Homo sapiens: one gene and its partners. The protein of the gene in region 3 purifies or fractionates together with the protein of the main gene of each other region. This does not show direct contact. Each region holds a gene or a part of one and is shown on either strand. Other genes may lie near its edges.

Region 1 (7,112 bases), on a different chromosome or scaffold from region 3:
ATGCATGGAAGCCCCGGGGTCCTTCCCTGACCAGAAGGCTGACAGCCCGGGTGGAGGGAGCACTCGAGATCCCTCCCCCTCAAGGTGATCCCGATGCTCTGGAACCCCCAAATGGCTCACTCATCGTGGATCACTTTAAAGCTTTCTTCGTTTCTAACATGGGAAAAATAGTCCTGTTTCTTGCTTTTCTCTTACAGTTTCTAGATGCTCTTTTCCCACTCCCACCCCACGTGGGGAACCCAGCTCATCCGGATCTGCATGCTCGTAGCTTTCTCCACAGGAGGCTGAGAAGCCACCAAACACAGAGAGGGATCTGAACGGCTGGGGATACTTAGTGCCGATCACAGGGCCCCGCTTCGTATGCTTTGAAATGCTTGTATTTAAGTCAACTCTGTCCCCTCTCCTGGCAGAGTTTTCAGCTGAAGATGGTGAGTGTAACCGCAGAACTGAAATGTACAGGGATGAGTGGAAGGTGGGGCAGCTGGAGACGATATTTGTTACTTTAGGAAAACAATTATTTTTCTCAGACTTAGGGACAGTGGACCGTCTAGACTGGCAAATGTTTTAAATTGGGGGCATCTTAACTCAGCCATTTCTTATACCACCAGATGTTTGTCTGGCCATTGTTTCCCAAATGAAAACATCTGTTTCATTTGCGGCAATGAAAGAAACAGTTGTTTTTCTGTACTTGGGGCAGCCTCAGTGTCTTTGCCCACGATTTCCTATGCTGTCCTTATGGTGCACTTCTTTTGACAGAGAACTTGAACCATATTTAAAAGGCTGCTTAGGAAAAGAGCTGGCAAGTCCATTTGTACAGTTAGATGTAGGTGTTTTCAGGCATGTTGGAAAGTCATACACAATTAGGAAGTGCATGTTCAAATGCATTAGGAAACTTCGGTATGTCTTCATGCCACTGTATCAGTGTAGACAGTCATGCACTGCTTAACCGCAGGGAGGCATTCTGAGAAATGTGGCATTAGGCCATTTCGTCCTTGTGTGAACATCATAGCGGGCACTTACACAAACCTAGATGGTGTAGCCTACTGCACACGTAGGCTGTATGGGATGGCCTATGGCTTCTAGGCTGCAAACCTGTATACGGTGTGACTGTACTGAATATTGCAGGCAACTGTAACACCATGGTAAGTACTTGTGTATCTAAACATAGAAGAGGTACAGTAAAAACACAGTGTTGGCAGAGCCCGGTGGCTCATGCCTGTAATCCTAGCCCTTCAGTAGGTGGAGGCAGGAGGAACGCTTGAGACCAGGAGTTCAAGACCAGCCTGTGCTACGCAGGGAGACTCTTATCTCTACAAAAAATAAAAAATTAGCTGGGTGTGGTGGCACGTGCCTGTAGTCCCAGATACTTGGGAGCCTGAGGTGGGAGGATCGCTTGAGCCCAGGAGGTCAAGGCTGCACTCCAGCCTGGGTGACACAGTGAGACCCCATTTCAATTAAAAAAAAATATATATGATATTGTAATCTTATGTGATCACCACCTTATACAAGGTCTGTCATTGACCAAAATGTTGCACACACACGACTATATTTGTAACTTATGAAAAAGGAATTGCTTTTATATTAGGTATGAAACAACAAAAAACAGGTACTGGTACTGTAGATAGCCTGTGTGTGTGTTAACCATGGCTGCCTCTTCTCTTTGTTTTCATTGAAATGATAGGAAATTGCTCAAGGGGTGGTTGGGAATTAATTGTCCTAAGAAAGTCTGCACTGTCTTCTCCTTATGATCATGGAGTCACCCAGTTTCTCCATCTCTAATTATTCTTACTGTAAGCTGGAAATTCTGGTGTTTTGCTGTGCATTCCTTTCTGGTCTCTGGTGGGGATTAGAAGTACCACTTTCTGAAGCGGCAGCTTTGACTTTGCAATTTTCTATTATATTTCTTTATTTCTTATAATGGTTACAGGCCTCTTGATCTGCTATTCTCAGGAAAATTCCATAAACCTTCCTGGTTGTAGGTGGAGCCTTACCAGAGGACATTTATTTTTATTTTTAATCTTTTCCTATGAAACACTATTAATTAATTAATTATTTTTTTTTTGAGACGGAGTTTCGCTCTTGTTGCTCAGGCTGGAGTACAATGGCGTGATCTCGGGTCACTGCAACCTCCGCCTCCCAGGTTCAAGTGATTCTCCTGCCTCAGCCTCCTGAGTAGCTGGGATAACAGGCATGCCCCACCATGCCGGGCTAATTTTGTATTTTTAGTAGAGATGGGGTTTCTCCATGTTGGTCAGGCTGGTCTCGAACTCCCGACCTCAGGTGATCCGACCTCCTCGGCCTCCCAAAGTGCTGGGATTACAGGCGTGAGCCCCCTCACTCGGCCAAAACACTGTTAATTTTTAAAGAAGTTGAACCTTGTGGCATTGTTTGTGGTTTGCTAATTTGTAATATGAGTTCCCTGCCCTTTTGTTTATTGTATTTTTGCCTTCAGGTCCACGCTTTCTTGGGGTTCTTTTTAGAAACCCAGCACTCGAAAGTGAGCTTCTGCATTTCTATGTTTTCATTAGCATTGCTGAAAACATATTTAAGCCTGTTTAAGAGGCCTCTGGTTTGTTGAACACAAATGCAGAGGAAGTGTTGTTTTTTTTCCCTAAAACAGTCAAAAAGTTAAAAACTGTCTTTGGTACAGTTTTCACAAGGGTAGTTTGATTAGATATGGGTAGATAAGACACAAGCTACTTATCACCTTTCCGTAGGTCTTTTTGTTTCTTACCGGTATATCATCCCACTGCTGACTCTTCACAAGTTCGTAAGAAGGTTCTGTTAAATCAAATTTGGGAACAGGGAATCCAGGAATAGCATTGTGCAGATGGAAACCAAATGTCACCAGCCAGCTGTTAACATCTAGGAGAAGAATGTTCAGAATGAAAGGTGTTGGAGTTTGTTTTGTCCTTTCATAAATTTAAATTCTTACCTTAAAAAGAAAATCCAATTTCACAATTAATAATCTGAAAAAGAGCACCTGTTTGCTTTCGTCCTACAAATCTAAACCTACTGTTTTTAGACATGAAGACGGTAACCTTCACAGCAGAACTATGGCAAATGCTACGAAAAATGCGAGTAATAGATGCTCAGACAGACTGGGTAAGCCATCAGTCCTGCTAAGTTGCAGCCTGTGCTAGTAACAGTGCTAGCAAAGGTAAGAACAATGCACAGCAGCAGGAGAGAGACATACTTGTAGAAAAGAAACGAAATTTATTTTGTAGTTGGTCAAGGCTGGTCTCAAATAGAAGTTGTGTGTTATTAGCTCTCCAAAGCGATTGCCCAAGGATATGCGGACTTCCACAACCCATTTTCTATTAATAAAACCCCTAAATTGAGAGTATTAAAATCAACAGTTGATTCTTAATCAAAGATGAATGCTGCAAGCTGGCAAAACTGGCCAAGGGCCCAGAAGTCCTGATTACCATCAGTTGTGACTTCAAAGGCTCACTGTGCACAGGTGGAGACAAACTTTTTGGGGAGAGAACCCGGAAACCTTTAAGGTGGTATTTTAAAATATTGCCATGTGACTCCAAAAGCCATTCAGCTCAGAATAAGGCTTTTATTCTATTCTGGAGGTTATAATGTTACAGAACTACTCAGCAGGCTTGCAGCTTTATGAGAACGGTTGGGTGTAGATTATTTTATATATTAAGCACATTGCTGGAAAATTTGAAATTGCATTTCACCTAATATATTTTATGCTGTTCCATCTCTCTTTTGATGTTTTTCAGAAAATGCTGCTATGGCATTCCCTGCAGTCCACGTTGCTAGGAGAGGATGAATTCAGGAGCTGTGGGCTTTCCAGACTTTCAGTCAGCCCCTGTCAACACCCCTTAAATAACCAGTGGTAAACTGCCTGTCAGAATGATGGAGAGCCACTTGATTCCCATTTCCTTCTCTAGGGCACAGACTCTCACCTCATTGCCAGGCTGGCAGGTCATTCGTCCAGGCATCATATGGCTATAAAACCAGTGGTATTCTTTTTATTTGAAATGGGGTGGTAGTAGTGGTGGTGGGGAGACATAAATCCTAAGTGGTTCACACAGGATGCAAAGTGACACAATTTGTGTGTATGTAAGAGTGTATATGAGTTTGGGGGTGGGAGGGCCTTATTTTGGGAGAAAATTCTCCCAAATGTTGGAGTATTGGGGGCAAAAATTCTGTTACTCTGAACAATGTCTGCATAACAGTGAAAATCAGAGGACCGTAAGTATTGAAAAGTACTGCCAAAATAATGGGGTTTGAAGGCAGATGTGTATTGAAAAACCCTGAATGAGAATAAGGGTGCTGCTGAATCAGGAGGCAGAAAGGAGGGACTTTCAGCTGGTTCACATGGAAGAGATATGAAATGCTTTAGACAGTCTGGAAAGGTAGGAAGCAGATGTGAAATGAACAGGGGGCAACCTGTTGAGAGCTGTTTTGAGAACTGAGAGAACAGACATCTCAGTATGCCTCAAATATTGAGCTAGAAAAGAGGCAGCCTAAAGGAGCATCTAACACAAGCCAAAACAAAACCAAAATACCTTAAATCAAGCCCAAAAAAAAAAGACAACAGGAAAGAACCTTCCTCCTGGAAATATAAATGTGGTAGAGGGGTTAATGATGGTGCTGTATATCAGGAATGGAAGGTAGGAGCAGCAGGATTCAGAATTCTTGGAGTAGAGGTTGAGTGAAGAAGTCAGCTCACTAAAGGGAACTAGAGTAATGCTTGCAAGGACCTTGTCTGTTTCACATGCTGGTTGTTCCATGGTGGCAGAAGTGGGATCTGATGTTCTACATCTTGCATAACTAAAAAGGTAGCATGCACTAAACTTGGAAAGATCTTAAATCTGTACCCTGAAAATTATCCCACATTCGTGGAAAAATTAGTATGCCTATTAGTATTGTCACCATGCAAGAACTGCACTGGCAATGAAGACAGTGATGTAAGAAGACAGAAGTGAGTCCAGACACAGGATCCATTGTCTAAGCAACTGATGGGAGAAATGGCTTCGTGACTGTCCTGAGGCAATGGTGGTGAGGCAGGAATTAAACACCTCCCAGGGATGAAATGGTGTCACCTTGTATTGTGTTTCACCTTAATTATCTCCATGAGAACTTCACACATGTATTAAAAAAACCCAACATGACACATTCGTAAGGTAGTTACTATCTGTTGCAGAATTTCATGTATTATATTTGTGCCCTAAGTTAGCCATTATTATCCCAATTTTATAGTTAAGGGAATGGAAACTCAAAAAACATATGGCTTGCTTACAGAGCTACACAACTTGTGGGAGAGGAGCTGGGATTGGGACTCCAATTTTGGGACTCTGTGTTCATCATGTTTTTTGGTCCCCCATGTTCCCCTTCTTTAAATGACTGAGTACATGTCATTTCAAAAACTTGTGGCCTTGGGCAATGGCAGGCAGAATAGGAAGTAAATATGTCTCATTTTCCCTTTGTGATTTCTCTATGGTTCCATAAAGAAATAAACACATTTAAAAGGTTAGCCATTTGCCTTTGCCTGAGTAAAGTATAAAGTTTTTTAAAAAAGCATTTCCAGTTATTTTGTGTATTAATCTAATGATGGTAGTCCTCCAGCTCTTGGGAAGGAATCAAAATGCTTACCTGTGATGTAATCTTTCACGTCATGGATTTTGCTTGCAGGGTTGTTATTCCTAAACATGTACAAGTTAAAAGGAGCTGGGTCCTTCCCAATTCTTTTCCAGATTTCTATGTCAGGTGTTGTCCACCGTCCTGCCAAAATGTCATAATCTCTTTCTCCAAAGTGGATTAATTTGGTGAGTGGGTCATACAGGCCACCATGAAATCCAATTACCAGTTGAAAGTCAATATTAGAGTCAAAATAGATTTCCCCATATGCAGTGTACTGAATCTGTTTCAGCATAAGCCCATTGCTACTGAACACAGCCAGTGGTGTCCCTGTGTTATCCGATGCAATATAGAATTCATCCCCACTGCTGATTTCCATGGCAAAAAGATGTCCTTGGAGATCATAATACAGGGAGGTAATTTCTGAACTCGAATGGTTGTAGACATGAGTAATCCTAGTGGGATAAGTTAAGTCAGCATAAAAAAACTGCAGGTGCTGTCCTAGACTGGTTTTGCTAGAAACACGCCTTCCCAGGCCGTCATAACGGTAGATCACTGTCCAGCCACTGCCTTTACTGTAAACTCGAGTTAGAAGCCCCTTGGAGCTATATTCAAAGATTTCCGTGCCCCTTTGACGTAGGAAACCATCTTCATCCAACCGATATTGAACATCACCCAGTCGAGTGATTCTGTCTCGCAGGTCATAGCGAAGGGGTGTCAGACGCGCACTGTTACTTGGGTTCAGTAAATGGAGGTTTCCATTCAGATCGTAGTTGTACCGCCACATTATCTTTTCATTGAGGTAAACTGTTTGGAGCTGTCCATCAACATCATATTCATAAGCATATTTGGTGGTGTTGGCAAAGGGCCCTATTTTAATCTCTCTCTTGGTTACCCGACCCATGTTATCATACTGAATTGTAATCCAGTACATGAGCGACCTGAATATCTCATATTGAATCTCCTTGATACGGCCATGAGCATCAAAGTGCTTCGTATAGGTCATTACAGCTGTAGAAATGATCTGGTTAATATCATAATATATAACTCCAAACTTTCCAAACTGCTCAACTTTGCCAGAAATGTCATCAAACTGATACAGATCAATAGGCAGTGGCGTTTCATTGATCACACCCTGCATGCTGGTCACTCGAAAGCTGTTGTCATAGCTATAGTCAAATCTTGCATTTACCATCCCATCTTCACTAAAGCGGAAAATCTGCCTGTCAATCAGGGGACCAATTTGCCTGTATCTAATGGTGCAAATAAAACCATCACTCTGGAGGTTTACTGTCTTTAGGACTCCTGCTGTTTCATCATAGGTAAAACTGACTCTTGTGCTATCATATAAAATTTCTGAGAGCCTAGTCTGCCTTCTGTATTTGAATAAGACCCTCCGACTTGTACCCAAGAAAGCTGTTTGTAGAAGCAGCCCTTCCTCGTTGTAGTCCGTGATGATGGAGGCGTTGCTTTCCGGGGGGTTGTATATGTTGCGGTAGTAGCCAATGGAT
Region 2 (7,000 bases), on a different chromosome or scaffold from region 3:
TCCTCTAAAACCAAAATATACTCGTATTTCTGTGACAGTGAAGCAAGGGAGCTCAACTTAAAACATACAGAGATTCTAGATGACAGGTATCAGAATGGTGAGGAGAATGTAACCCTCTGAACAGAAAATTAGAACTAACTCAAGTCTTGGTATCTGAAACACTGCCAAATACCAAGAGACGAAACTCCAGCACACAGAAAGTCCTGATCCCACTGACTGGTCTGGCTGTATTTGAGATAGTAACACATGAATTCTCCCCTACAGTTTCCCAAGAATAATTGATTCTGAGGAATTGTTGTATTTCCTGGAGTTTTGCTTTTTTCTTTAGAGAAGTCCAAGTCAGCCAAGGGCCAACAGTCTATAGGTATCTTCAGGATTTCCTCCTGATTGGTCCTTCTCTACTATGTTTCTACTTCCAAGCAAAGTCTGGTCTCATCCCAACCAGGAATATCTGTAGTTTTTGAGGTACTTGGCTCTCTCAGAAGCCCTTAGGGGAAAGCGACATGAAAGAAATAAAAAAGAGTGCTGTCTTGAAATGAAAATGACAGTCATCTTTTCTGAACAGGGATGATATTTGTAATTTCATAGAATTAAGAGATATCTGACTCTCTCAGAAGTCCTCAGAGGAAAAGTCATGCAGAAGAACTACAAAAAAAAGTGGTATCTTGAAACTTAAATTAAAACTACATAGAAAATCTTAAAGATGGTTAAGAGTACATTCTTGCTGGTGGGATAGGAAATGTAATCAAATATCTGGAAGTCAGAATTACATAGTATGTTTTCAAAAGAAGGATGCCAGGAACCCCCCAACAGCTGAAAGAGAAAGTTAGAGGAAAAGTTTCCCACGGAAGGAAGGTGTCCCAGCAACCCTCCAAGGGCAACATTTAGTAGACAATGTACTAGAATACAGCCTTCCATATGTTAAAAAAAAAAAATGTTTCAGAGCTGACCAAGAAGACTAGACAATAACAAACCAAAGCTGGGGGATTGTCCCAAGACATCTAAATCTCCTTCTCTTTCACCTCCTATCTCCAATTAACTAAAGACAGTGATTACAACAGATCTCATGCACTCAGATGGATGAATGATAACTCATTTTCCCTGGCATTCTCCTCCTCATTAATGGACCCAACCTCAAAATAACTCCCATGCTATTTCCATTCCCTTCCATTGTTTGAAAACAATAAAAAAGTTCCAGACTTACCTCCGCAAGAAACTTAATTTCCCAGGTCTCTTCCTAGCACAAGTTTCACAGCCAGCAGCAAAACAAAAACAAATAAGGAGGGGAAAATAATTAATTTTCAAGTTTTACTTTGAAACCTCAGAGGCCCATAGAATTAGACAATCTCGTTGCAAAAGTACACAGACAAGCCTAAAACCATTTAGAGAACTCACCCCCAACAAGTCTCCAGGCTTCCCTAACTCTCTATTAGTCAATTTACAAAAACAATACCAACTCCAAGAATTTCCAGTCTCAATGGCTTGCGGCAAGACAGCTCCCAAATTTAAGAACTTCTGGGAAAACCAATTACCCTCTGGCAGCTTCTCATCTTCCTCCACAATTCCTTATTCCTATTTTGTTACAATATTAACGTTAACTTTCACCTTTAGAAAAAACTGGGAGGAAAGTGGTTACAGCAGACCAGCACTATCCTCCAAATTCTACATTTGGCCCTTTCCCTTAACTAGCACACAATGAGAACAAAATATCTAATGGCGCAGCATCCACTCATACGTCTATGTTTCACCAGGGAAAAGTTTTTCTACATACAGTATCCATGTTACCCCCTCCCTTCCAGACTTAAAACAGCAAAAGGGTCTGGAAACTACAGCACTCATTTAATTAACCTGTCTAGATGCCACTCTATCTTTTCTCTTTCCCTCCTCAGACTTCCAGAGCCTCCACCTTAGCATATAGGGTTCCAATATAGCCATGTCTGCTCCCCCACTCTTGTATTGCTAATGCTAAAAACTAGAAAAGTCCTTTGCTCCTCCACACTTGGGCGACACCGGCTTCCCCATTTTCCCAAGCAGGAAAAACAAGGGAACAGTAAGCTAGGGAGTCTTTTGGAAAACAAACCCAGTTGAATTCTCATCCAACCCCAATTCTGCAAACCCACATGACCATTCCCTTCTGCCCTTCCCACCCTCTTAAAAGCTAAGGGCCTGGCAATTAGAATTGGCTGCAACTGATGCTGCTTAACTCTGTTCTCTCCTCCTCTCCACCGGGGAAAGGGAAACCCCCGAACCTCTATCACCCGTGCAGCTCCACTGTCCTATCTCCCATTCCACTCCCCTTCCTCCCAAACTTTCTTCCTCCCAGTCTCTCACTTTCTCCATTACCTCCTCCCACCGACACTCTCTCCATTCCCCAAGCCTCCGTTCTCTCCTTTTCCACCCAAATTCTCCCCTAGGCCCTTCCCCCTCCCACCTCCAATTTAACACTTTCGAAGCCCCCCAGAAACGTCTTAACTCCAATTCTGACCTTTACCCACCTCCTCGCAACACCCCTCATCAGAGTCCAGTCCTCCCTCCAACCACATGCCACAGCCCCCTTCCCCTTCACACCCTCAGCCTCTCCCTCCTGCTCCTACCCCCTTCAATACGAGCGGATCGCAGCCCCACTCCCCACCTCGGCCTCTCTAATACCCCTGGCTGGGCCCAGTCTCAGCCCTTGTTTACGCCCCTCCCCATGCCCTCACTCCTCCGTCTCGACCCCTGCCCTCTCCCGCAGTTGCCATCTCCCCTGCACGCCCCCCTCGGCAGCTCCCCTCCCCCACCTCTCAGCGTCCCGTCACCTCCCTCTCTTGAGGTTCTCAGGCTGGACGTCGCCACCGCCTCCCCCTCCACTTTCCTTCCCCAAGCCCTTTGCGGCCCCGCCCGGCCCCGCCCCGTCCCGCTCGACTCCCTCTCCCCACTCCGGCCGCCCCTCCGCCTCACTCTCGGCTCAGGCTCGGCGCCGCCATGTTGGATCCATCCGCGCCGCTCTCCCGGGCCTGCCTCACGGCGCCGCATCCGGGCTCCAGCAGCCGCCGCCGCCGCCGCCGCCGCGGCCGTGGGGGAGGGGACAGGCGGGCGGGGGTGGCTGCATCCTGAACGGCGCCTCCCGGAACCCGGCCGGTTAGTGGCGGCTTCGAGGCCATAGTGAGACATGAGCCGGAGTAGCCATAGTAAGTGAGGGCAGCCTGGCAGCGGCATTAATCGGGGAGTGGATAGCTTCACTTCGGGAGGAGAGATAGAGATTGGCAGCCATCTTGCTTTGGGGCAAGCTGGCAACGCCGGTTTGTCTTGACGGCTGCTTAGGGCGGTAATAAGGGATCGAAGAGGATAGCATTCTTGAATGGGAAACATTGGTGGCGCCACAGCTGGCTGGTGGCGACTTCAAGACCCACTGGAAGGCTGGGATTGGCAGCCATGACTCATAAGGGCGGAATACCACGGGGATCGGTTTGTCTGGCGAACTTGAGTGAAGGGTCAAGATCTGGATTTCACCTTTCCTCTGAGCTTCCTGATAACCCGGACGTTCCGTAAACCCGGATCCGGAGCCGAAAGTGGTGCCCAGATCCCGTCTCGGAATTCATTTGTTCAGCATTTACCTTTTGAACGCCGGTTTCCTGTAGGAAGTGTCGCCTAGCTGATCCGTGTAGGGCTGTTGGGAATTGGGGGTGGGGAGGATGGTGCGGGTACGTTCTGGTGTGGCTTAAGAAAGTGGTAATAGATAGGGGAAGACCAGATTATGCGAAGCCTTGTAAATTAATTGATTTTTATCCTTAAGGCAATGAAAAGTCTTTGAAGAATCTCAGCAGAGGTGTGAACAATTTCATTTGCATTTTAGATCGCTGCGTGCAGTGTGAAGGATGAATGAATTGAGGAGAATCAAGGAGAGCAGTTGTGAGGCTCTTTTCCAGGCAAGGATGATGATGGTCTGCCTGTGGAAGGGAGAGTGCGGATGGGGAGATACAGATTGGTTTAAGAGGTACGAATGTTGTGACTTGGACAACTGGGGAATAATGATACCAGTTTCTTTCTCGTTTAGGGGGGAGATAATGAGTTTTAGGTGCCCCTGGGATATTAGCTAATGTGGGTTGGGAACTCAAAAGAAAGGTTTGAGGTGTGTGTGCGTGTGCATATAGATAGCTGTTGAAGCCATGAAGTGGGCTGGAGAGGATACCTGCATTTGCGGGATAGGATGAGGGAAGCCGAAAAGAACACTGAGAAGGGGCAAACCGAAAGGAAAGAAGAAAACCATAGAGAACTATCAAGGAAACTGGTGAAAGCGTTTAGTGTAACAGAGATATAGTAAAATGCTAACTAAAATATATACATCAGGGCCGGGCATGGTGACTCACACCTGTAATCCTAGCTTTGGGAGGCCGAGGCGGGTGGATCACTTGAGGCCAGGAGTTCGAGACCAGCCTGACCAACATGGTGAAACCCTGTCTCTTCTAAAAATACAAAAAAAATTAGATGGGTGTGGTTGCACATGCCGGTAATCCCAGCTACTTGGGAGGCTGAAGCATGAGAATTGCTTGAACCCAGGAGGCAGAGGTTGCAGTGAGCCGAGATCGCGCCACTGCATTTCAGCCTGGGCACCAGAGCAAGACCCTGTCTCAAAAAAAATGAAATAAATAGGCCGGGTGCTGTGGCTCACTCCTGTAATCCCAGCACTTTGGGAGGCCATGGCGGGCAGATCACCTGATGTCAGGAGCTGGAGACCAGCCTGGTCAACATGGTGAAACCCCGTCTCTACTAAAAATACAAAAATCAGCCAGGCATGGCAGTGCGCGCCTGTAGTCCCAGCTACTGGGGAGGCTGAGGCACAAGAATCGCTTGAACCCAGGAGGCAGAGGTTGCAGTGAGCTGAGGTCGTGCCACTGCACTCCAGCCTGGGTGACAGAGTGAGACTCTGTCTCCAAAAAAATAAAATAAAGTAAATAAAATGTATCTATCAGATATTGCAACAAGGGCCAGGCACAGTGGCTCACACCTGTAATCCCAGCACTTTGGGAAGCCTAGGCAGGTGAATCACTTAAGACCAGGAGCTGGAGACCAGTGTGGTCAACATGGCAAGACCCCATCTTTACAAAAAATACAAAAATTAGCTGGGCATGGTGGTGCGCACCTGTGATCGCAGGTACTCCAGAGGCTGAAACATGATAATCACTTGAACCCAGGAGGCGGAGGTTGCAGTGAGTCAAGATTGCACCACTGCACTCTCGGCAACAGAACAAGACTTTGGTTTTTTTGTAAATAAAACAAATAAATAAAAAGGCCAGGTGTGGTAGCTCACACCTGTAATCCCAGCACTTTGGGGACCGAGGTGGGCCGATCACCTGAGGTCAGGAGTTCGAGACCAGCCTGGACAACATGGTGGAACTCCCATCTCTACTAAAAATACACAAATTAGCCAGACATGGTGTCGGGCACCTGTAATCCCAGCTACTTGGGAGGCTGAGGTGGGAGAATCGCTTGAACCCAGGAGGCGGAGGTACAGTGAGCCGAAATTGCACAATTGCACTCCAGTGAGACTCTGTCCCCCCAAAAAAGATACTGCAACAAGGAGGTCATTTAGGAAATTTGGAGAAAGCTGTTTTGTAGTTATGGTGGATAGAAACCAGATTGAATTGAGAAGGCACAACGTATAAAGACAGTTTTTTCATGGTGTTGATGTAAAAAGGAGACTAGTGGTAGGGTGTTGCAGGAGGGAGAATTCCAAAGAAGGTGAAGAAGTTTTAGGTACCTGTGAGATAGCTAGATAGATATGTCCTAGTGGCATGTTTAATACACAGATCTAAAACTTAAGAGAAAAATATAAGTGGAGAAAAAAAGCAAGCACAGAATAAATATGACACATTTACACATGCATTAAAAAATTATGAAGAGTGGGCCTAGGAGGGATAAGACTTATACTTTTCATTTTACATCTATCTTTATTGCTTGAAATTATTTTATTATGCACATATTATTTTACAGAAAGCTACTTTTTTTTTTTCTTTTTTGAGACAGTCTCGCTCTGTCACCCAGGCTGGAGTGCAGTGGCACATCTCAGCTCATTGCAACCTCTGATTCCCAGGTTCAAGCAATTCTCCTGCCTCAGCCTCTTGAGTAGCTGGGACTACAGGTGCACGCCACCATGCCTGGCTAATTTTTTGTATTTTTAGTAGAGACGGGGTTTCGTTATGTTGGCCAGGCTGGTCTCAAACTCTTGACCTCGTGATCCACTCTCCTCGGCCTCCTAAAGTGCTGGGATTACAGGCGTGAGCCATGGTACCTGGCCAGAAAACTACTTTTTAGAAAGCCCTGTGATATATAGGCCAGAAATTCTGAAACATCAACATTTCGGTGGTAGTTGAAGCCATAGATTTGGATAAGCTCCCCAGAAAAGAGCAGAGGGCTAAGAAGAGTGCTCTCGGAAATTCCAACATTTAAGGCACAAGTAGAAAAAGAGCTCTTGGAGAATCTTTGAAAAGGAACAGCGAGTGAAGAAGAAGAAAACCTGGGAGATAATTGTCACAGAATCAAAGGGAAGAGTATTTCAAGGGGGTGGATGTTGAAAGTGTCAGATGTCCCCACAGAGGCAGCTGATAGGAAAGGTGCTCTTACCTCTGAACCTAGGTTTCTTGGAAGCTTGGCACAAGAGTCAAATCCAGATCTTGAACCTTTCCCCAAGTATCACTGGGCAGTACAACCCCCAGGCTATTCTGCCCTTATGCATCATGGCTGCCAGTCCCAGTCTTTCAGTGAGTCTTCAAGTCAACACCAGCCAGTGCTGGCACCATCAATCTTACTACACTTAATAATGATACCCTGGCTGGGTGTGGTGGCTCACACCTGTAATCCCAATACTTTGGCCAGGAGTTCAAGATCAGCCTGGGCAACATAGTGAGAGACCCCATTTCTACAAAATTTTTTTTTAATTAGGTGGGTGTGCACTTGCCTGTAGTCCCAGCTATTTGGGAGGCTGAGGTGGGAGGATCACCTGAGACTGAGGAGTTTGAGG
Region 3 (7,112 bases):
TTAAAAGGTAAGAAGAACATATCTCAAGAGGAGATGCCATCTTATTAAATGAAACAACAGTGGAAATATAGCCAGACCTGACTAACCTTGCCTGTATTTTCTTGTAGGCAGGAGAAAATCAGAGGCATCAAGATCTGGTAGAAGGGCCGGTCTGCTGTTTAACACATACCAGCAGACAGGTCCCACGTGGGAGGCACCACAGACCTTTAAGATAGGGTGAAGCCTTGATAGAAGGAGAAACAGAAGCTGCCCACTGTCTTTACTTAGAAGTGGAGAACATGGCATTCTGTATTTATTTATGTTGACTGCGCAACTTTACGTTTCTAAACCAGTCTTGTTACATGAAATTCCCTATAAAAACTCAGAACTTCAGTTGTTTAAAAAGTATTTCAATCTGCACTTCAGCAATATTATTTTAAATACCACCACTATTTTATCTGAACTTATTTTACCTATAACAACTTTTAATTTGTTGTGTTTAATATTAAAAGGGTCCATAGGAATTTATAGATTCAAGTTTCAGTATTCTTCTTCAGGTACTGAACCAAAAAAATGTACATTTAACATTAATCCAAAGTCTAAGCCTGGATATATTATTATTTGGTGGCAGGGTTCCTAAAAGATGGTCTCTTGCTCCTTCAGTGACAGCCACGTTGACAGACCACAGAGGTGCAAACACATGCACACTAAAGATTTCACAGCTACTCACAAGTGACGAGACTGACCACATCGAAGCACAGTTGTCCCTAAGAACATACAGCTCAAAAATGTTCATGTTCTCTTTAAGAATACTGAAGTATAACCATCCTCATGAAGATTACAGCTCCTTCTTACACTTGTAGGCACTGACTTACTCTGCAAGGCTGTGAAGAGAAGAATCTCAGCTCCAGTGTAGAAAAATAATACAGAATACGTGAGCACTTCCACGGGTGAGCCTGCCTCAGACCACTTCCCTCCAGACAGCATAAAGCAGATGCAGGCTGCTCTGTCAGAAATAGAACCATTCCTTGCCTCCTTGCCGTTGCAAACCCATTAACCATAAATCTGACAGGGATAAGAACAGATTTTTTCCTATTAAAGCAACTCTTTGGTCATGGACAAACTGAAAAGATTTGAAATTTTTTTTCATTAGGGTCCCGGAACAAGATTTCTTTGTTTTTAATCTTTAAAAAAATTAAGAAGAGCAGAAAAACAGTTGGTTTAATTGAAGTGGAATTTAAATCTAAATGGTCCGCCTGAGCTGAAGGGATTGAACCCTTGCCATGAGTTCCAGCTTCTGTGGAAAGGGTTGCCGCCGCCTCCTTGCTGGCTCTCTGCATCCAAAGGATCTTCTCCGTCGTCAAACTTCTTTCTCATTTCTAGAAAGAAATCAGAAAATTAAGAACCAGATAATATCTAAGGTATAGGGGCAGGGGGAATGTTTTCTTTGGGCAGAGGAGGGTGGGTGGGCTTGAGGAGCTACTTACTTTTCGGTTATCAAGAGTTGTGCCTGACATTCAAATCCAGGCTCTCCCATTCCCACCCTGAAGAAACAGACTAGAGAAATTTGCCACAAGGAGGGTGAGGTTCAGGGTTGATAATAGGTATTTATTGAGATTCAGGCCCCTAAATCTCACTCCAGAAGAAGCCACCCAAGCTTGATAACTACCCAATGAAATTATTTGGAAAAAAATAATTCAAGAGAAACTTCCAAGAGTCTACAATTCTAATGAAACAGCCAGCTCACCACCCTAATCCCCAAAATAAAGTCTGTAAGGCAATGACCTCATCAAGCATCTAATGAGCATTCTAGCACTAAGGCTCCTCAGACATGAGGGGAGCGGGGCCTCCATAACATACAACTCCAGGAGGTTCACCTTTCCCTCCCATGCAATTGGTGCCCCCACAGCGGGGCCTCTGAGCCCCGAACAGAGAGAGATCAATGCAGAGACATGGGAGAAGGCAATAAAGAGGAATATTGCAGGGATAGGAAGAAAGAGCTCATGTCCTCAGAGTCATTAGAAAAACCCTGGAAGACAACCTAGGCAAATACTATTCAGGACATAGGTATGAGCAAAGATTGCTTTTGGTGTTTCCATCATGAAATTGCAACAAAAGCAAAAATTGACAAATGAGATCTAATTAAACTAAAGAGCTTCTACACAGCAAAAGAAACTATCAACAGAGTAAACAGACAACCTACAGAATGGGAGAAAATTTTTGCAAACTATGCAACTGACAAAGGTCTACAAAGAACTTAAATGTACAAGAAAACAACCCCATTAAAAAGTGGGCAAAGGACATGAACAGACACTTCTCAAAAGAAGACATATATGCGGCCAACAATCATATGAAAAAAAGCTCAACATCACTGATCACTAGAGCAAATAATTAGATCATTATTGCAAATAAAAAATGGCTATTATTAAAAAGTAAAAAAAATAGATGCTGCCAAGGTTGTGGTGAAAAAGGAACGCTTATACACTATTGGTGGCAGTGTAAATTCATTCAGCCATTGTGGAAGACAGTGTGGCAATTCCTTAAAGAAAGAAATACCATTCAACTCAGCAATCTCATTACTGGGTATACACCCAAAAGAATATAAATTGTTCCATTATAAAGACACATGCACATATCAGTTTATTGCAGCTCTATTCACAATAGAAAAGACATGGAATCAACCTAAATGCCCATCAATGATAGACTGGATAAAGAAAATGTGGTACATCTACACCATGGAATACTATGCAGCCATAAAAAAGAATGAGATCATGTCCTCTTGCAGGGGCATGGATGGAGCTGGAGGCCACTATCCTTAGCAAACTAATGCAGGAACAGAAAACCAAATACCACATATTCTCACAAGTGGGAGCTAAATGATGAGAACTCATGGATGCATAAAGGGGAACAACACACACTGGGGCCTATTGGAGGGTGAAGGGTGGGAGGAGGGAGAGGATCAGGAATAATAACTAATGGGTTCTAGACTTAATACCTGGGTGATGAAATAATCTGTACAACAAACCCCCATAACACACATTTACCTATGTAACAAACCTGCACATGTACCCCTGAACTTACAAAAAAAAAATAAAAAGACTTAGCATATAGCTAGGTTTTTTAATAAATGGAAAATAGAGAATGCAGAAAAAAATGCAAATATAAAAATAATCCCAAGTCTCGCTTTGCTCTCTCACAGTAACTTGTCCTTTAGGGGTTCAAAGATACTTAGAGAAAAGCCAGTTTACTTCATTCTGGGAGGTTAATCTGAAGCCACATATTTAGGAGGAGGAAACCCACCAGTAAAACTGAGGGTTCTTATGCTGAGTGTTAATAACTAAGCGGGTATTGTAGGTGATCTGAAACTCAGCTTTGTTTTATAAAAGCTAATGCAGTTAGACTCAGGCCCCATATCTTTGATATCTCACAGGCAAAATTAATCTAGGGTGTTAGCACTTAGAACAGTAGTGAACTCTCCGTAGGGGTGGGGGTGATAATGGCCCCAGAGAAAGGATGCTGTGAATGGAAGGGGAAGTGAATTCAGCTATATTCACATTATGTAATTACTTAAAAATTCAGTGGAGTGGTCTGCATACATCTCAAAGAATGAGGTAACCATTTTTCAATGAGAAAAAACTATAGCCAAGATTTATTTCAAGTGAAAATTAAGTTTCAGATTGGCATACATCATGTGATTCTACTAAACATATTCCTAAATATGACACGTCTTGATATATGCATAGTAAAAAACTTTAAAGTCTTTAAAAGAAAAGATAGTTCATCCTGAACAGAAGAACAGGAGGTAAGAAAAAGGACCTGCAGCTCTTTCCTCAGTGCATGCCTCTGTGCAGGGACACCCATCCCCTTGGTTGGCTCCCTGGTACCTTAAAACGTAGCACAAAGTCCCTCTCACATAAGAAGATCCTGACTCCCAGTCTGATACACTATCACACCTGTGCACTGCACAAACTAAGAGGATTGAACTGCTTAAGGCAGGTTGTAGCCACTCAGTATTTGCTAAGTAACAGGACAGTATGTATCCAACACTACTTGATAAGGGAAGTACATTTCTGTCTCCTTTACTGGATTATAAATTACTTGAAAACGAAGGATCATTTACTTTCAATTCCACTGCAAGTACATTTCTGTCTCCTTTACTGGATTATAAATTACTTGAAAACAAAGGATCATTTACTTTCAATTCCACTGCATAAGTAAGTACTCAAAAAAGATTTGACAAACATAAAACTTTCCTCTCTTTTGTTTGTTTAGCTCAGATCACAGCTGCTGTTCCCACTGACATGGAAGGCCACAAAAAAGCAGTATAAGCTTAACATGAAATTCTCTGGCAGCAGCAAAGCATTGTTCAGTATTACCTCAATGCTTAGCCTGTCTCCCTCTTAACGAAATTTCCAGGCCATATTACTGTATGGCAAAAGAACACATGTGGCCAGGTGCAGAGGCTCACACCTGTAATCTCAGAACTTTGGGAAGATCACTTTAGCCCAGGAGTTAAAGACCAGCCTGGGCAACACAGTGAGATCCCATTTCTACAAAAAATAAAAATTAAAAAAAAAAAAAACACATATAAGCCTGTGAATCTAATGATCCTATGATTCAGGGCAAGATTCCTGGTGAACACATATGGGGCAAAGCAGGCCCTAGGCCAGACAGCTGTTCTTCTCCCACTCCATGTAATCCAGCCTGGCAAGCTGGTTTCCTCATCAAGCTCCTGTAAGCTTGGTGGAGAAAATTCATCATTGACCTTTGAGGTTAGAGGGAACCTGAGAGATCCTCTTATGCTCAGTGTTGAAAAAACTGAGACCAAAAAGTTCTGATAACTTCTTTGAGTAGAAAAAAGATTCAAATTCAGGCCCTCTGATTCCACATTTGATAGTCTTTCCACTGTACCCTGCAACAGGAGGGTGCCCAACATAAGAGGGCTGAATGAGGGCAGGCATAAAACTGGACCTCTGGAACTGGGCTCAGGACCCGTCACTGCCTATACAGCCCCACGTGGAGAACCCACCACATGTTCCACCCTCGCTTCTAACACCACCTCTAGGATGAGTCAAAGGAATAAAAGCTAATAATACCTGGATCAGAGAGGACTTCTTTAGCAGCTGCTATATCAATGAACTTTTTCTCAGCTTTTTTCTTTTCTTCTTCATTCTGGAAGTTATCTGGGTGCCACTGCAGTGCTAATTTTCGGTATGCTTTAATAATTTCTTGCTTTTTGGCATTTCTGAGGGGTGGTAAAATAAATAATCATTAGTGGAAAAGTGTCTAACATACTATCATAAAAATCAGAAGAGCTGATTAAGATCCTACTGGCAATTAACAAAACTGGTTTTATAAAATAGTTCCAATGGTATCACAGGCCAAAGATCTGCATACACAGTTCTGGATGATCATTAAAGCTGACATCAGGCTTCCTTGGATACTCGCTCACTAAGATTACTGAGAATAAAGCACTCCTGATCTTTAGAACTTTCCCTTTTTTAAAAAAGGTACATCAATGAATTTTTTAACTTTCTGAATTTCCAAGTTACCATAATTCAATTCTTGGTATTAAAAAATATTTGACTCTGAATGCCACTTTCAATTATGCTTCTGCATTAGCTTACTTAATAGTAAGCACAAAGATTCCAAATTTTGAAAAATTGATGGTTTACTCAGCGAACCACTGGGAGGTATATCATTTACTTAATTTCAGAATTCACCCACAGGCACTGGGAGGTGTATCATTTACTTAGTATGTACTTTTATATAAGGTAGATCTTAATTTCAGACTTAATTCTGAAAGCACTACTTTATTTTTAGGCCTAGAGAAGGCTTTTTCTTTACTCATTCCGTCTCCTCCTCCATCCCCACCAAAAGGAATCTCACTCCTACCCCTTTACCCTTCTTAAAAAATCTAGGCTTAGGACCCATTCATGCTACAGTGTCATCTTTGTTGCCAACTACTAATTCTGTTGTTGCATTATTGGTCTCTATCAAAGAAACTTGCCTATAAAATACTCAAAGTAGCTTTCTAATGTTAAAGACTGTTAAGGTTTAATCCATATGACTGAAATTACATAAGTAAAGAAAATGAATCAGAGAGGAAAAAGAGCAATGATTAGCTTTGAAACAGAGTTGATTAAAAATAGCAAAGTAAATTTTAAATTAATAATTCACCTTTTTACTCCCAAGATTTTATAATAATCTCGTTTCTGCGACTGTTTCAATAATCTTTGTGCTTTCTCTAGACCTTCTCGAATCTGCTGATCATTTTCATTGTGTTCCTGAGCAGTTTCATAATCCTGAATAGCTGTCAAAATATGTTTAAGATAATATTGTTAAGGCAAATTATAATTTATTGCCTTTTCTTATCCTGTAAAATTGATGCTAAAGTCGTCATCCCCCAACCCCTTCACTCTTTGGCCATTATTGCCAAAAACCTTAAGTGATACCCCGTTAGTAACTTTGATCAAGAATATTTAAGAGGCCGGGCACAGGGGCTCATGCCTGTGATCCCATCACTTTGGGAGGTCGAGGTGGGCGGATCATGAGGGTCAGGAGTTCAAAACCAGCCTGGCCAACACAATGAAACCCCGTCTCTACTAAAAAAAAAAACACAAAAATTAGCCGGGCATGGTGGTGCACGCCTGTAGTCCCAGCTACTCGGGAGGCTGAGGCAGGAAAACCGCTTGAACTTGGGAGGCGGAGGTTTGCAGTGGCCGACATCGCACCACTGCACTCCAGCCTGGGTGACAGAGTGAGATTCCGTCTCAAAAAAAAAAAAAAAAAAAAAAAAGGTTTAAAAGGCATAATAATGAAAACTGAGTTTAGGTAGTTTATTATTCTCATTCAACAAAATGTACTGCTGTTTACTTGCCCACCCTCCCGCATTATCTCCCCATACCCTCTGGGTAAATATGTTAATATCAGCACTTTATCCAGAGCAATCTTACCACCATTAAGACTAAGTGGTTGTTACACAGGAAAGAAAGACAGTGATAAAGAAAATCGGCCTGGTCAGCTATGGATTGACAACAGTCCAGAAGAATTAGACATTTAGAAAGGGATCAGGAGGTGGGTTTGGCCAATGGGAAGCTAGAAAAAAAAAATTTGTAGAAAGAAAGGGAACA

What was found.
Region 1: the proteins of DNAJC3 (region 3) and TENM3 purify together in Homo sapiens (co-immunoprecipitation; 2 studies listed by BioGRID and IntAct, with this or other methods). This does not show direct contact.
Region 2: the proteins of DNAJC3 (region 3) and DEDD purify together in Homo sapiens (co-immunoprecipitation; 2 studies listed by BioGRID and IntAct, with this or other methods). This does not show direct contact.

The regions. Positions count from the first base shown.
Region 1 is NC_000004.12:182,792,390-182,799,501, reverse strand, and holds part of TENM3 (teneurin-3), read right to left. Parts: coding exon 5,617-7,112; intron 2,866-5,616; coding exon 2,735-2,865; intron 1-2,734.
Region 2 is NC_000001.11:161,129,611-161,136,610, forward strand, and holds the start of DEDD (death effector domain-containing protein), read right to left. Parts: upstream 3,058-7,000; 5' UTR 2,941-3,057; intron 2,837-2,940; exon of another isoform or gene 2,781-2,836; intron 1,238-2,780; 5' UTR 1,205-1,237; intron 1-1,204. UniProt on the Homo sapiens protein: A scaffold protein that directs CASP3 to certain substrates and facilitates their ordered degradation during apoptosis. May also play a role in mediating CASP3 cleavage of KRT18. Regulates degradation of intermediate filaments during apoptosis.
Region 3 is NC_000013.11:95,785,119-95,792,230, reverse strand, and holds part of DNAJC3 (dnaJ homolog subfamily C member 3 precursor), read right to left. Parts: intron 6,293-7,112; coding exon 6,160-6,292; intron 5,225-6,159; coding exon 5,076-5,224; intron 1,359-5,075; coding exon 1,201-1,358; 3' UTR 1-1,200. UniProt on the Homo sapiens protein: Involved in the unfolded protein response (UPR) during endoplasmic reticulum (ER) stress.